Linked DNA regions of Homo sapiens: all the other regions are linked to region 3. Evidence: fine-mapped expression QTL. A gene starts in region 3. Each other region holds a variant in brackets. All regions are shown on one strand. Distances are between the middles of the regions. Region 1 overlaps KIF2A (kinesin family member 2A). Region 2 has its middle 110 kb from the start of LRRC70. Region 3 holds the start of IPO11 (importin 11).

Region 1 (4,242 bases), 42 kb before region 3:
GCATGGTGGCATGCATCTGTAGTCCCAGCCACTTGGGGGGCTGAGGTGAGAGGATTGCTTGAACCTGGAATGTTGAGTCTACAGTGAGTTGTAATTGCACCACTGCACTCTAGCCTGGGCAACAGAGCAAGACCTTGTCTTAAAAAAAAAAAAAGTAATAGAACTACATTTCTAAGTATGAACTATTATATTTTGTAAATTTAATCCCTTTAAAGTTTGAATTATGAGCTCCTAGCTGCAAATCCTTATTGTGTTAGTTTTAATTGATCTTGGTAATTAACGTTTTTGATATGTGGGATTTTTATCATTAATTTAAAATGTTTCTTATTTCAGAATAATTCTTGAGAAAGATGAGGAACAGCCTAGTGTAATAGATTCTTGCCATGTTGTAGAATTAAAACAAACAAAACCCCTCTGTTTCTTAAGATTTGAAACTACAAAAGATTCCTCCCTAATATTGTGAAAATGCTATATCTAGCTGTTCCTCTAGTTCACTTAGGTCAAAGTAAAATGTTTTAACCTACTGTTATATCATGTAACTCACTTGCAACATGACTAACCATCTGGGACACTGTATTAATCGGTTCTCACACTGCTACAAAGGAATACCCGAGACTGGGTAATTTATGAAGGTTTAATTGACTCACAGTTCAGCATGGCCACAGAGGCTTCAGGAAACTTACAGTCATGGTGGAAGGTGAAGGGGAAGCAAGGCACCTTCACCAGGCAGCAGGAAGGAGAAGTGCCAAGCAAACTGGGGAAGAGCCTCCTATAAAACCATTAGATCTTGTGAGAACTCACTATCACGAGAACAGCCTGGAGGAAGTTGCCCCCATGATTCAGTTACCTCCACGTGGTCTCTCCCTTGACACTTGGAGATTATGGAAATTATAATTTAAGATGAGATTTGAGTGGGGACAGAAAGCCTAACCATATCAGACACATAATTGTTTCAATTTTATTTCCAAATCTCTAGGAATAAAGATTTTTAACCTTCCTTGATACTCATACCAATGTTTTGTGACCTTAAGAGTCAGTAATTTTTTTTTTTAACAGCCAAAAATAATTCATTCCTCCTTTATACTAAATCTGCCTTATTTTTTTTAGGCCAATACTTTGAGGTGGTGGGTAGGTGGCATTACATTAAAATTTCATATTTTTAGGAAACTATTTCTGTCTTAAGTGTTTAAACTTTTTTTGTATTTAAGACATAGCTTAGTGATTGAAGTGTTATTTCTCAGGACAAAATAGGTTTAATAACTTCCTTACTACTTAATGGTATCAAAGCCTCGGGAAAGTTACTTAACCTCTCTCTGTCTTTATTTCCTCATCTTTAGAATAGACAGCTAATGACCATGTCCATCTTAAAGGATTGTTTTTGAGGACTAAAAGAAGTGATCTGTGTAAAATGTTTAGCACAGTACCTGGGATATATTAATAGGAATAGTTATCCCTATTGCTACTTTAGTGAGCAGTTCTGTCTAAAAAATTCGGTTAGACAGATGTGAAAGCAATGTTTTTTCATATCCTTATATTAGAATCATATACTTTGAAAGTTTTATATGGGAATTGTGGGATAGTTTGTAACAGTACACATTGCTGCTAAGTGATTAAGTTGACAAGTCTAGTTCATCAGATGACAATTAGAGATACTTTATTTATTTATTTATTTATTTAAGATGGAGTCTTGCTATGTCACCCAGGCTGGAGTGCAGTGGCACAATCTCAGCTCACTGCAGCCTCTGACTCCGGGGTTCAAGCGATTCTCCTGCCTCAGCCTCCCGAGTAGCTGGGATTACAGGCGCCCGTCACCACGCCCAGCTAATTTTTTTGTATTTTTTAGTAGAGATGGAGTTTCACCATGTTGGCCAGGCTGGTCT[C/G]GAACTCCTGACCTTAAGTGATCTGCCCGCCTCAGCCTCTGAAAGTACTGGGATTACAGCATAAGCCACTGCACCCAGCCAGACAATTAGAGATATTTTAGAGGAGAGTACAAGGGAAAACTTTCAGAGTGGAAGGAATGGTTGTCTCAAGGAAAAAAAATTTATAGGATATATGAGAAATAGACAGTGGCCTCTATCCTGAAGCAGAGATACTTAATCTTTGGGTAATGGAAGAGGTTAGAGTGATTGGGTCTTGGGTAGAAGAGTGATTAGAGTGATTAGGAGTTTTTAGTAACATGTTTGAAGAATGTGATTCTTGTATGTAGTATAGTCTGGCTTGGGCAAGAGGGCTTTGGATAGAGGAAAAAATGTGTGGATGAAGCTAATAGGGTGTCTAAATTAAAAGATTTAGATAAGAAATGGGGTGGGAGTGAAAATAGTTGTTTGTATTAGAAATTTAGATTTTTCAGGCCAGACGCTGTAGCTCATGCTTGTAATCCCAGTACTTTGGGAGGCCGAGGCAGGAGGATCACTTGAGTCCAGGAGTTTGAGACCAGCCTGAGCAACCTAACGAGACCTCATCTCTACAAAAAAATAAAAAATTAGCCGGGGGTGGTGGCACACCAGTGATAGTCCCAGCTGAGGTGGGAGGATCACTTGAGCAGGAGGTCAAGGCTGCAATGAGCCATGACTGAGCCACTGCAGTATAGCCTGGGTGATATGGTGAGACCTTATCTCAAAAAGGAAAAAAAACATATTTAGATTTTTCAGCATGTGTGGTAAATAAACTTTAAGGATAAAAGGCAGATGAATCCAATATTGAACCTTTGACAGTAGATATTAACCAATAGGTCAAAGAAAGACTGTTAGTAGAGGAAACATATTAGTTTGATTTATATGAAGATATTGATACTTGTTTTTGACCTAAAAAGAAGGGAATTTCATTTAGTTCAACCTAAGAGAAATGACAAGAAAATCAGAGAATATGGTTATTATATTGAAGTGTTTAAATAACATAGGCTTTGTACTCAGGGCTAGGTTTTAACCTCAGTTATGCCACATTCTCAGTGAATGACCTTAGAGAAGATACTTTATTTCTGAGTCATTTTTCTCATCTATAAAATCAAAGATGGTTGAAGGACTAAATAATATAATGCCTAAAAATGACTAATCCTAATACCTGACATACAGGAGGTACTTAATAAATATTTTATATGGGTATGAAATAGGGTTGGCCCAAAAGAGACATAAGGAATTACATAGATGGGGTGAGAAAAGTCATAATTTGGTTAAATATAACTATTGAAGATGTTAGCAAAAGCAATTTAAATTTCATTGCTAAAGGCTGTTCTCAACCAGAGTTCTTCATCTGAATCACCAACCACTGAAAATAGAGTGAATATTTTCTCAGTTATACCAAGGACATTTCACAGCTAATGCCATTCTGGATGCATAGGAAAGAAGTTAATTCATTACAAACAATGGATGCCTTAAGACATTAGGACTTAATTCCCTTGTGTCCTGTTTGGAAAAGACTGCAAAAATGTTGAAGACTCATGAATGCTAATAAACAAATAGTCATGGTACTGACTACATGAAGAAATTAGATTGAGTGGTCATGTAGTTAGGGGGGCATTTCAGATTTAAGTGACTTAGTTAAACTTCTAGGAAGGATTATGAGAAAAGAGGAAAATACACCAGAAAGGAAAGACTTAGGACTATAGAGCAGGGGATCAATAGAACAAAGATGTTCAAAAACCTCTTAAAATTTGTTATTTGTAAAATAATATTCTAAATACATTGTCACAACAATATCAATATCCTTTTCTAAACAAAAGTGAATACTAAATGAAAATGTGCAATGTGCATTGCTGTCTTTCAAGAGCATTTTCTTTTAATTTGTTGCTCTTTTGGTGCTGCAGAGTAAAGGAGTTTGGAATTAGTCCATCAGACATTCCCTTCTCACAGGGTAGTGGCAGTCGCCCTGATCTCTCTCCTTCTTATGAATATGACGACTTTTCTCCTTCAGTTACCAGGTCTACTTCATTCTATACATAAGATGTTTATTTGTATACTTTCTTTTGAATTGTGCTTTGTATAAACATTTCATTTGCTATTTTTGTCCTGAGCCATTTTAGTTTTCATTGTCATTTCATTTGGCAGGTGGTGGTTGTACTGCATGATCTGCATTCTTACATCTTTTATTAATTTGTTTGCTTTAAAATGTTGATTTAGAATTCAGGCTTCCTATTTCCCCCTCATATTTTTAAGGATGATGTCACTTTTGCATACTTACCATTAAAATTACCATACTTACCATCGAATTGTTAAAAGATAAATTATCTTGCTTAAAATGAAGAGA
Region 2 (4,242 bases), 280 kb after region 3:
TAAGTCTTATATGTTGTAAAACGCTGCATCTTCATGCACATATGTATACACATATGCAGAGACACATACATAATACTCTACATACATATGTATATGCATCTTCTCAACAAGCCTTTCTGCAGAGGCATTCAGACAAAGGCAACATTTGAAGAACAGAAAACTGAAGTCAGTAATCTTAACTGACACAACTTCACATTGCACTTTTTAAGTTTCATTTAAAACTTTGGGTCAGAATGTATACACTAAGGTATTATTTGGACAAGTAACACTTCCTGGGTTCCTGGGAAGCTTGCTTTTTTTTTTTCCTTTTAGAAAATAAAAGGGTCTTGTTCTGTCACCCAGGCTGAGGGCTGGAGTGCAGTGGTGCAATCATAGCTCACTATAACCTCAAACTCCTGGGCTCAAATGATCCTCCTGCCTCAGCCTCCTGAGTAGCTGGGACTACACATGCATGCCACCATGACCAGCTAATTTTTTAATTTTTAATTTTTGTAGAGACATCTTGCTATGTTGCCCAGGCTGGTCTCAAACTCCTGGACTCAAGTGATCCTCCCACCTTGGCTTCCCAAAGTGCTGGGATTTCAGGTGTGAGCCACCATGCCTGGACCCCGGGAAGCTTTTTGCCTCTTCTCCTGTCCCCTCCAAATATGCCATCTGCCTCCCAATGCCTAACATTTTATTAACAACAGAAAAGCCTTCCTTTCATTCAATATAAGAAATAAGTTTAAAATATAAAATATACTTGGGAGAGTTAAGAAGGTAAGTGACGTGTTCACACCAAGACATTTTATTTCAAGCCAATGACAGATTATTCCACTTCTTTTTTAGGTTTTGATGAAATATAGGAATGCCTGCTTAAAGGGCTCAGTAGACAGGAGGGACCACCACTATTTGAAGAGATGAGAGTTGAAAGATAGTAGAAGACTGAAGAGGGGTATTGATGCTTGGTAGTTTGGTTGAGAGCTGGCCCAACCAACCTACAATACAGAAGTTTCAAGAAGTTCTGTTGACTTGTGCTTTTTAAAAATCCTTCTTAAGAAAACAATCATAGTTATATGTTTGGCTAGTCAAGTCCATGCCATTATAATGAGTTTGCATCAGATTTATTTGAGTGTGTTAAAAGGGAAACAGGCTGGGCATGGTAATCCTAACACTTTGGGAAACTGTAATTCCAGCACCTGTAATCCCAGCACTTTGGGAGGTTGAGACAGGAGGATTGCACAAGCCCAGGAGTTTGAGACCAGCCTGAGCAACATAGTGAGACCCCATCTTTACAAAAAATAAAAATAATTAGCTGGGTGTGGTAGTGTGTTCTTGTATTCCCCACTATTTGGGAGGTTGAGGCAGGAGGATCACTTGAGTCTGGGAGGTTGAGGCTGCAGTGAGCCGTGATTGCACCACTGCACTCCAGTCTGGGTGACAGAGCAAGACCCTGCCTCAAAAAAAAAAAAAAAAAGAAAAAAATTTTTTTACAAGAGGAAAATTGATCATGATCATATTTCTTCCTTTTCCAGCTATAACTCCCGGAAATAGGTATAAACAAATGCTGGTGTGTGGGACTTTTTGGCAAAATCATCCCAGGATTTCCTCAGGAGACAGGAAAAGACTTGAAGTCCTAAAAATGTATCTTTAGGGCAAAATAAACCCACGCCAGTTGGGTGTGGCCATCAACACTCCCAGAGGCGGAGTCTGCATTTTAGCAATGGTAGCGGGCCTGCTCCATGAGTATCTGATGAGATAGCTCCTTGGAAAGTGGGTTGTGAACCATAAAACACCACATCTGTTGCGTTATTAGGTGAAAGCCTATTGGAAAATCATGGGGAAATATTTTTTCACAATTGCAGCTTCTGGCTTGGTGAACACACGGAAGTGCTGCCAGGGGG[C/T]CCCGGGAGGGCATGGGGACTCCGTGCCCCAACCCCACTTCCGTGCCCTGCACATCTCTTCCACTCAACTATTCCTAAGTTGTATCCTTTATCATAACCCAGTAAACATAACTGAAAAAAATCAAAAGTGAAACTACTTAAAGCAAGATTTAAAAACATCTAAATGCTGAAGTGATTAGAAAGGGTTTCAGTTCTTGATAAAAAACAAAGTTCAGGAGTGTTCCTCAAAATGGAAAAGAACTGTAAAAGCCACTAACTCTTCTCTGAAGTTTAAAGTAGACCAGATGACTCAGGGCTTTTATTAGAAAAGTTTTTGCACAATAGCTGTTTCACCTTTTGGTGAAACAGCTGAAACTCAGGCAGAAATGCTAAGGAAAAGCTAAAGTCCTACTTCAATTTATTTAAACTGCCAGTTAGCAGGAGCCTAATGTATGCAAGTCAAACCCACTGCCGTCTTCCTGGCCCCGGGTCCTGACTCCTAAAGTGGCCACAGGAGACCCTGGCCTTAGAAAGAAATCTCTCCTGACCTCTCTAAGGATTATGCCGGGTTTGCCTGCCCCACTCTTCCCCCAGCAGAGGGTGAGAGAGCCTCTGACCATTCTTAAAGGCCGCCCTCCTTCACAAAGCTCCGGGACTTTCGAGTAGACAGGTCATGGTGGGGAGTGCTGGGGAGCTCCTGCTGTTTAATTTGGTTTGACTAACAGAAAGTGTATGCAGAGTGGCCCTCTTACCTCCAAGTGGCTCTGGTGTGCTCAGTCCCCAAGTTTCCTATTTATGTTAGTAAAATTTTTGGTACTCTGAGTCCCTTTGGTTTGTGGTCATTGGAAGAGACAGAGGTTGACCCCTTTGTTCACCCTCATCCTGGACAGCATCTGGATGGGTCTTGCCCTCCTGCCTTACTGAGTCCAGTGCTAGGGGAGAGGACACAGCAGGCCCCTGCCCCTGAAGGAGACTGCATTGGAATTTTTGCCAGGTGGCCCTGACACATAGGAATGCCCAACTACTGTGACTACCCTCTGAGATAAAAAGCTGTCCTACTGATTTTAGAAGGCCAAAATTAGAGGTCATTTTGGAGGTCATGCCAGTGGACATATAACAGTTTGAAATGCTTGTTCCCCGGTGCCGTAAAGAAATAGTACTTGAACTTAAATTTATTCAGCAAGGCCATTTTTATTTTCTGCAGAAAGGGTACACTTGGCAGCAGTTTTGCCACGAGAGTACCCCGAACAAAGGAGACAGGGTCATTTATAACCTGACGCGTCCACCCTTCTGCTGTGTCCGGTTTCCATTGGCTGGAACAGGACCTCACATTCTGTATTTGTCCCGATTGGCTAGCAACTTAGAACTTATTAAAAGAGGCAAAGCTAGAGGAGAAAAAAGGAAGGAGGAAGTAACTTGTGGAATGCTGAGAAAGGTAAAAACACCTTTAAATAAGGAAGAGAAACAGGCTATGAACTAATGCCTGCTTGGACCAGTATAAGCATGCCAGGGCAAATATTTAGGCTAAATTGTGGGAGCTAAGAACATAAAGTATATTGGTTTTCTTATTACGACTAGCAGATATTTAAGAATGTTAGCACAGGTTTTTGAATAAATTTTGCTTCTAAGAGAAGTTATTATTTATTCCTAATTAAATGGAGAGGAAAGTCTTTGAAGAGGAACCTCTATTTTTACATAGAACCTTGCCTGGTAGCGCAAACTAGAATCAAGGAGTCACAGAGAGTTAGAACTGGAAGAACCTGAGTGATCTGTCTCCCAGCCCAATTTCTTCCCGTACCAGTGTGGAGATGGAGAGTGAAAGTGACCCATCCTGGGCTGCCCAGCCAGCGGAGTTAACACAAGAACCTGGGGTTTCATCCTGCCAGTTGAGGTTGCATTGTATATGTTTGTTTTCCATTCTTTTTTTTTTTTTTTTTTTTTTTTTTTTTGAGACAGGGTCTAGCTCTGTCAGGCTGGACGGAATATAGTGGCATGATCTTGGCTTGCTGCAACCTCTGCCTCTTGGGCTTAAGTGTCCTCCCATCTCAGCCTTCTGAGTAGCTGGGACTACAGGTGCACACCACCATGTATTTTTTTGTATTTTTTGTAGAGATGGGGTTTCGCCGTGTTGCCCATGCTGGCCTCAAATGCCTCAGCCTCCCAAAGTGTTGGGATTACAGGTGTGAGCCACTGCACCTGGCCTGCTTTCCATTCTTACCTCTGTGTTAATGACACAGCATTTTCAAGACAGTTTTGTTCCTATTCTTTACCCTCTGCAAAGGGTGTTCTTGATACACAGACACACACACACACACACTTATATGTTTTAGGCAATTGCAGATATTTGCTTCTAGTCCAGGGTGCCAGTTACAGAGGTCCC
Region 3 (4,242 bases):
AACATAATGTTTTGCAACCCTCTTTTTTCACAATGCATTGTGCATGTGTAAACATGTCAACAAATACACTTCAAGATAATTTTATTTTGTTTAATTAATTAATTAATATATATTTTTTTGAGACAGAGTCTCCCTCTGCCGCCCAGGCTGGAGTGCAGTGGCACGATCTCGGCTCACTGCAACCTCTGCCTCCTGGGTTCCAGCAATTCTCCTGCCTCAGCCTCCCGAGTAGCTGGGATTACAGGTGCCTGCCACAAAGCCCAGCTAAATTTCTGTATTTTTAGTAGAGATAGGGTTTCACCATGTTGGCCAGGCTGGTCTCGCTCTCCTGACCTCCAGCAATCCACATGCCCCGGCCTCCCAAAGTGCTGGAATTACAGGCATGAGACACTGCGCCCGGCCTATTTATTTTTTCTTGAGATGGAGTCTCGCTCTGTCGCTTAGGCTGGAGTGCAGTGGTGCGAACTCGGCTCACTGCAACCTCCGCCTCCCGGCCTCAAGCGATTCTTCTGTCTCAGTCTCCTGAGTAGCTGGGATTACAAGCGCATGCCACCACGCCAGGCTAATTTTTGTAGTTTCAGTAGAGACAGGGTTTCACCATGTTGGCCAAGCTGGTCTTGAACTCCTGACCTCAGGTGACCTGTCCGTCTTGGTCTCCCAAAGTGCTGTGATTACAGGTGTGAGCCACTGTGCCCGACCTCAACATAATTTTAAATGGTCAATTTGTATTTTATTATGTATGGATGTATTGTGATTTAATCATTTGTGTCATTGGTGGTTGTTTAGGTAATTTTATCTTTTTACTTTAAAAAACAGCCCTTGTGTGATCGACATTCTTGGAATGCAGAGCTTGGTTCAAATCCTAACATGGCCTTTTACTAGCTGTTTGACGTTAGGTGGGCTACTTGACTTCTCTGTGCTTCAGTTTCTTCATCTGTGAAGTGGACATAAAGAAAATACCTACCTCATAAGGGTTGTTCTGAGGATTAAAATAGATAATTCCCATAAAGATCTTAAAACTGTACCTGGAATATTCTAAATTAGCAATAAAGGTTTTCTATTATTAATATTTTTGAACACTCTATTTCCTTACAACTTCTTTTACTATTATTATTATTATTTTGAGACGGAGTTTTGCTCTTATTGCCCAGGCTGGAGTGCAATGGCGCGATCTCGCCTCACTGCAACCTTTGCCCCCAGGGTTCAAGCGATTCTCCTACCTCAGCCTCCCGAGTAGCTGGGATTACAGGGGTGCACCATCATGCCCAGCTAATTTTTTATATTTTTAGTAGAGATGGGGTTTCTCCTTGTTGGTCAAGCTGGTCTCGAACTCCTGACCTAAGGTGATCTGCCCGCCTCGGCCTCCCAAAGTGCTGGGATTACAGGCGTGAGCCACTGTGCCTGGCCTTACTATTATTATTTTTAAGAAATATATAGTTGGTGTGTATTTTTAATTAATTTATTTATTTTGAGACGGAGTCTATTTATTTATTTATTTATTTATTTGTTTATTTATTTTGAGACGGAGTCTCGCTCTGTTGCCCAGGCTGGAGTGCAGTGGAGCAATCTTGGCTCACTGCAACCTCTGCCTCCAGGGTTCAAGCGATTCCCCTGCCTCAGCCTCCTGAGTAGCTGGGATTACAGGCGCCCGCCACCGCGCCAGGCTAATTACTGTATTTTTAGTAGAGACAGGGTTTCATCATGTTGGCCAGGCTGGTCTCGAACTTCGGACTTCGTGGTCCGGCCGCCTCAGCCTCCCAAAGTGCCGGGATTACAGGTGTGAGCTACTGTGCCCACCCCTTATTATTTTTGAAATGGGTGTGTGTGTGTGTGTGTGTGTGTGTGTGTGAACTCTCTATATGTCCCAGGTTGGCTTCGAATTCCTGGGCTCAAGTGATCCTCCTGCCTCCATATCTGGAGTAGCTGGGACTACAGGCGCGCGCCACTGCGCCTGAGTAAGTTCTCTTTTTAAGGATAAGAAAATTTAGGTGACTATGCTAGCTTTTAGCAGAGGCAAGCAGAACTGGATTTATGTCCTTTTACATTTTTCCACTCTTGCTATTACTCAGGAGTAAGCGCCAAGCAATTTGGGTAACTTAAAAAATAAATATTTGCGGGAGGGAGGGTGGACTGATGGGAGTAAGATTCTTTAAATAACTCTTCTCTGCTGTGACGGATCCGCTATTGATATCTAGAATATAAAGCGTGAAATGGTTCTGATTGAAGCTTCAATCAACGCAGGAAACAATTGAGCTCCCTGGGAGTCGGAGAAACCAGACCTATGGTTTCCATGGTGACAGATCCGGCTAGTCCGGACTCCTGGCTCTTTATACTGCGCAAGCGCACTGCGCAAGCGCACACAACTGATTTGGATACCCCGCGCCTTTTGGTTCAAAGACAAAGCCCCTCCTTCCCCTTCCCGCCGTTCGCCTATCGCCTTCTCTCTCTGCCGGTCGCATGCGCGCTGGTCTCCTGTGACGTAGTTTTCGCGCGTCCGCGTCGTTTGGAGCTGCGACGCCAAACATGGCGTGTTCCTAGAAGCCGCTTTCGGCATCAGTAGGCGGCGGCGTGGGGTCTGGCAGCGTGGGGAGAGGGACCAACCGACGCCACTTCGTGTTGGGAAGTGGGAGCGGGAGGGCCGGGCAATTCCCGACCGAACCAAACGGTGAGGCCCCGGCCCGAGAGCCACCGAGCGCGCGGGAGTGGAAGGGAGTGGGTTGGGCACCCGAGTCCCGAGAGGCGGGAGGAAAGTGGGGCTACCAGGAGATGAGGGATAACGGTAGCGAGGCAAGGGCGGCCTGCAGACTTGGCTGTTTGCGCAACCTTAGGAACCCGGGGAACTGGGGGCTGGCCGAGGCAGCCCGGGAGTGGGCAGCATGGTAGTGGAGCAATCAGGGTGCGGGGTGGGAGGGACCGTATGCTAGGCTGAGCAGAGGCGAGTGTACCCATCGTGACCGCGGTTGCGGACCTGGGTGATGCATTTGCCCTTGGGGGATAGGTGGTGCAAATTTTGAGATAAAGTGGTTATCTCGAGTATAAGACCGTTGTGCATTGTTACTGCGCACGCGACCTTGTTGCTAATAGCAATAGTGTGATAGCTTTAAACATTAGACCCTTACATGCTTTTAATGAAAAAGTGAAGGTAGTTGTCCGTTTATAGAGAGGAGCTTCATGGAGAGGTATGGCCGCCAATTCTCAAGCTCAGCGACTCCTGTAGATTTATATTTGGGGGTATTTGTGATTCAGCAAAACTACTTTTGCTTATTACGTGTGTCATTTTTTCTTTATTATTTTGTGACATGTTGGTGAATGAGAGAAGTACTATCTGAAAGTGATTTGACTAAATAGCAAGGACTGGTAAATTACCTACTAGTGCCAAGGTTGCAGTTGACATACCTCCTCCCCTCCATAATTTAAACGAGCTCAGTTGTAGCGCGGTAGTGCCCTTCAGATTTCGGTTATTCTTCAGAAGGAAGAATAGTTTGTAGCCATAATGCTTTTCCCCCTCCTGGGATAGGAATTTTCTTCCTCCATTTTCATGTTATTTCAAACTTCTCTGTTCAGTAGAGGAGCTTCAGATTAAGGGCAGGGTGACTCTTCTATAGGAGACATCCATTGCATGACACATATTACATCTTTCATCACTGAGGAAAATTTCGGTGAAAGTAGAAACATTTTCCCTTTTGGTTATGATGGGACTGGTATTTTCTCTGTTTCTGCAGTAACCTAGCACAGGGTATAGTAGAAACAATTAATTATAGTAGTGGCTTGTGGCCATATATTATAGTCTCAGGGTAGGAGGGTGGTCTCCGCCCTAGTTGAACTTCTAAGGCCAAAGAGAATTTTCACCACAAACACATTTGGCTGTGGTAATGTTAGAGGTTTTAAACAAATATGTAAAGATTATCTGATCATTAATAGAACAATTTTTAGATTTTGTGATGTTTGAATATATTTGCATTTGGAATCAAACCAGAATGCAGCATGATCCTTGTAGGCATGTGGCTATTAAAATACACTGAAGATTTTTCCAGAAACAAAATTTTTTTTTCTCAGCAATAAAAATATTCAAATTTTGGGTAAGGTAATGTTTGATTATTTGGATTTTGACCTTTGTGTTATATATTTGTACCTGTGTGTGTGTATGTATGTAACCTCACTTCTAATTTAGTGTTATTGATGGTAATATTTTTTCCTTTCTTTATCAGCTTCAAATAGGGACTGTTAATTTCAGAGCGTTTA

Evidence for each region. PIP is the estimated chance that this variant, and not a neighbour inherited with it, causes the effect. A credible set is the group of variants that fine-mapping cannot tell apart.
Region 1: its variant is the best candidate, but not a certain one, in a credible set for the expression of IPO11 in skeletal muscle (GTEx, PIP 0.61).
Region 2: its variant is the best candidate, but not a certain one, in a credible set for the expression of IPO11 in whole blood (TOPMed, PIP 0.52).

The regions. Positions count from the first base shown.
Region 1 is chr5:62,368,636-62,372,877 of GRCh38, forward strand. KIF2A (kinesin family member 2A) reads left to right here. Exons shown (of 21, transcript NM_001098511.3): 17 at 3,803-3,916. Among named protein-coding and RNA genes, the nearest start is that of DIMT1, 33 kb to the right of the region's middle. The variant C/G (reference allele first, on the strand shown) is at 1,881.
Region 2 is chr5:62,688,111-62,692,352 of GRCh38, forward strand. No RefSeq gene overlaps it. Among named protein-coding and RNA genes, the nearest start is that of LRRC70, 110 kb to the left of the region's middle. The variant C/T (reference allele first, on the strand shown) is at 1,884.
Region 3 is chr5:62,410,265-62,414,506 of GRCh38, forward strand. IPO11 (importin 11) reads left to right here and starts at 2,499. Exons shown (of 30, transcript NM_016338.5): 1 at 2,499-2,665. RefSeq lists an enhancer at 2,420-2,609 and a silencer at 2,940-2,989.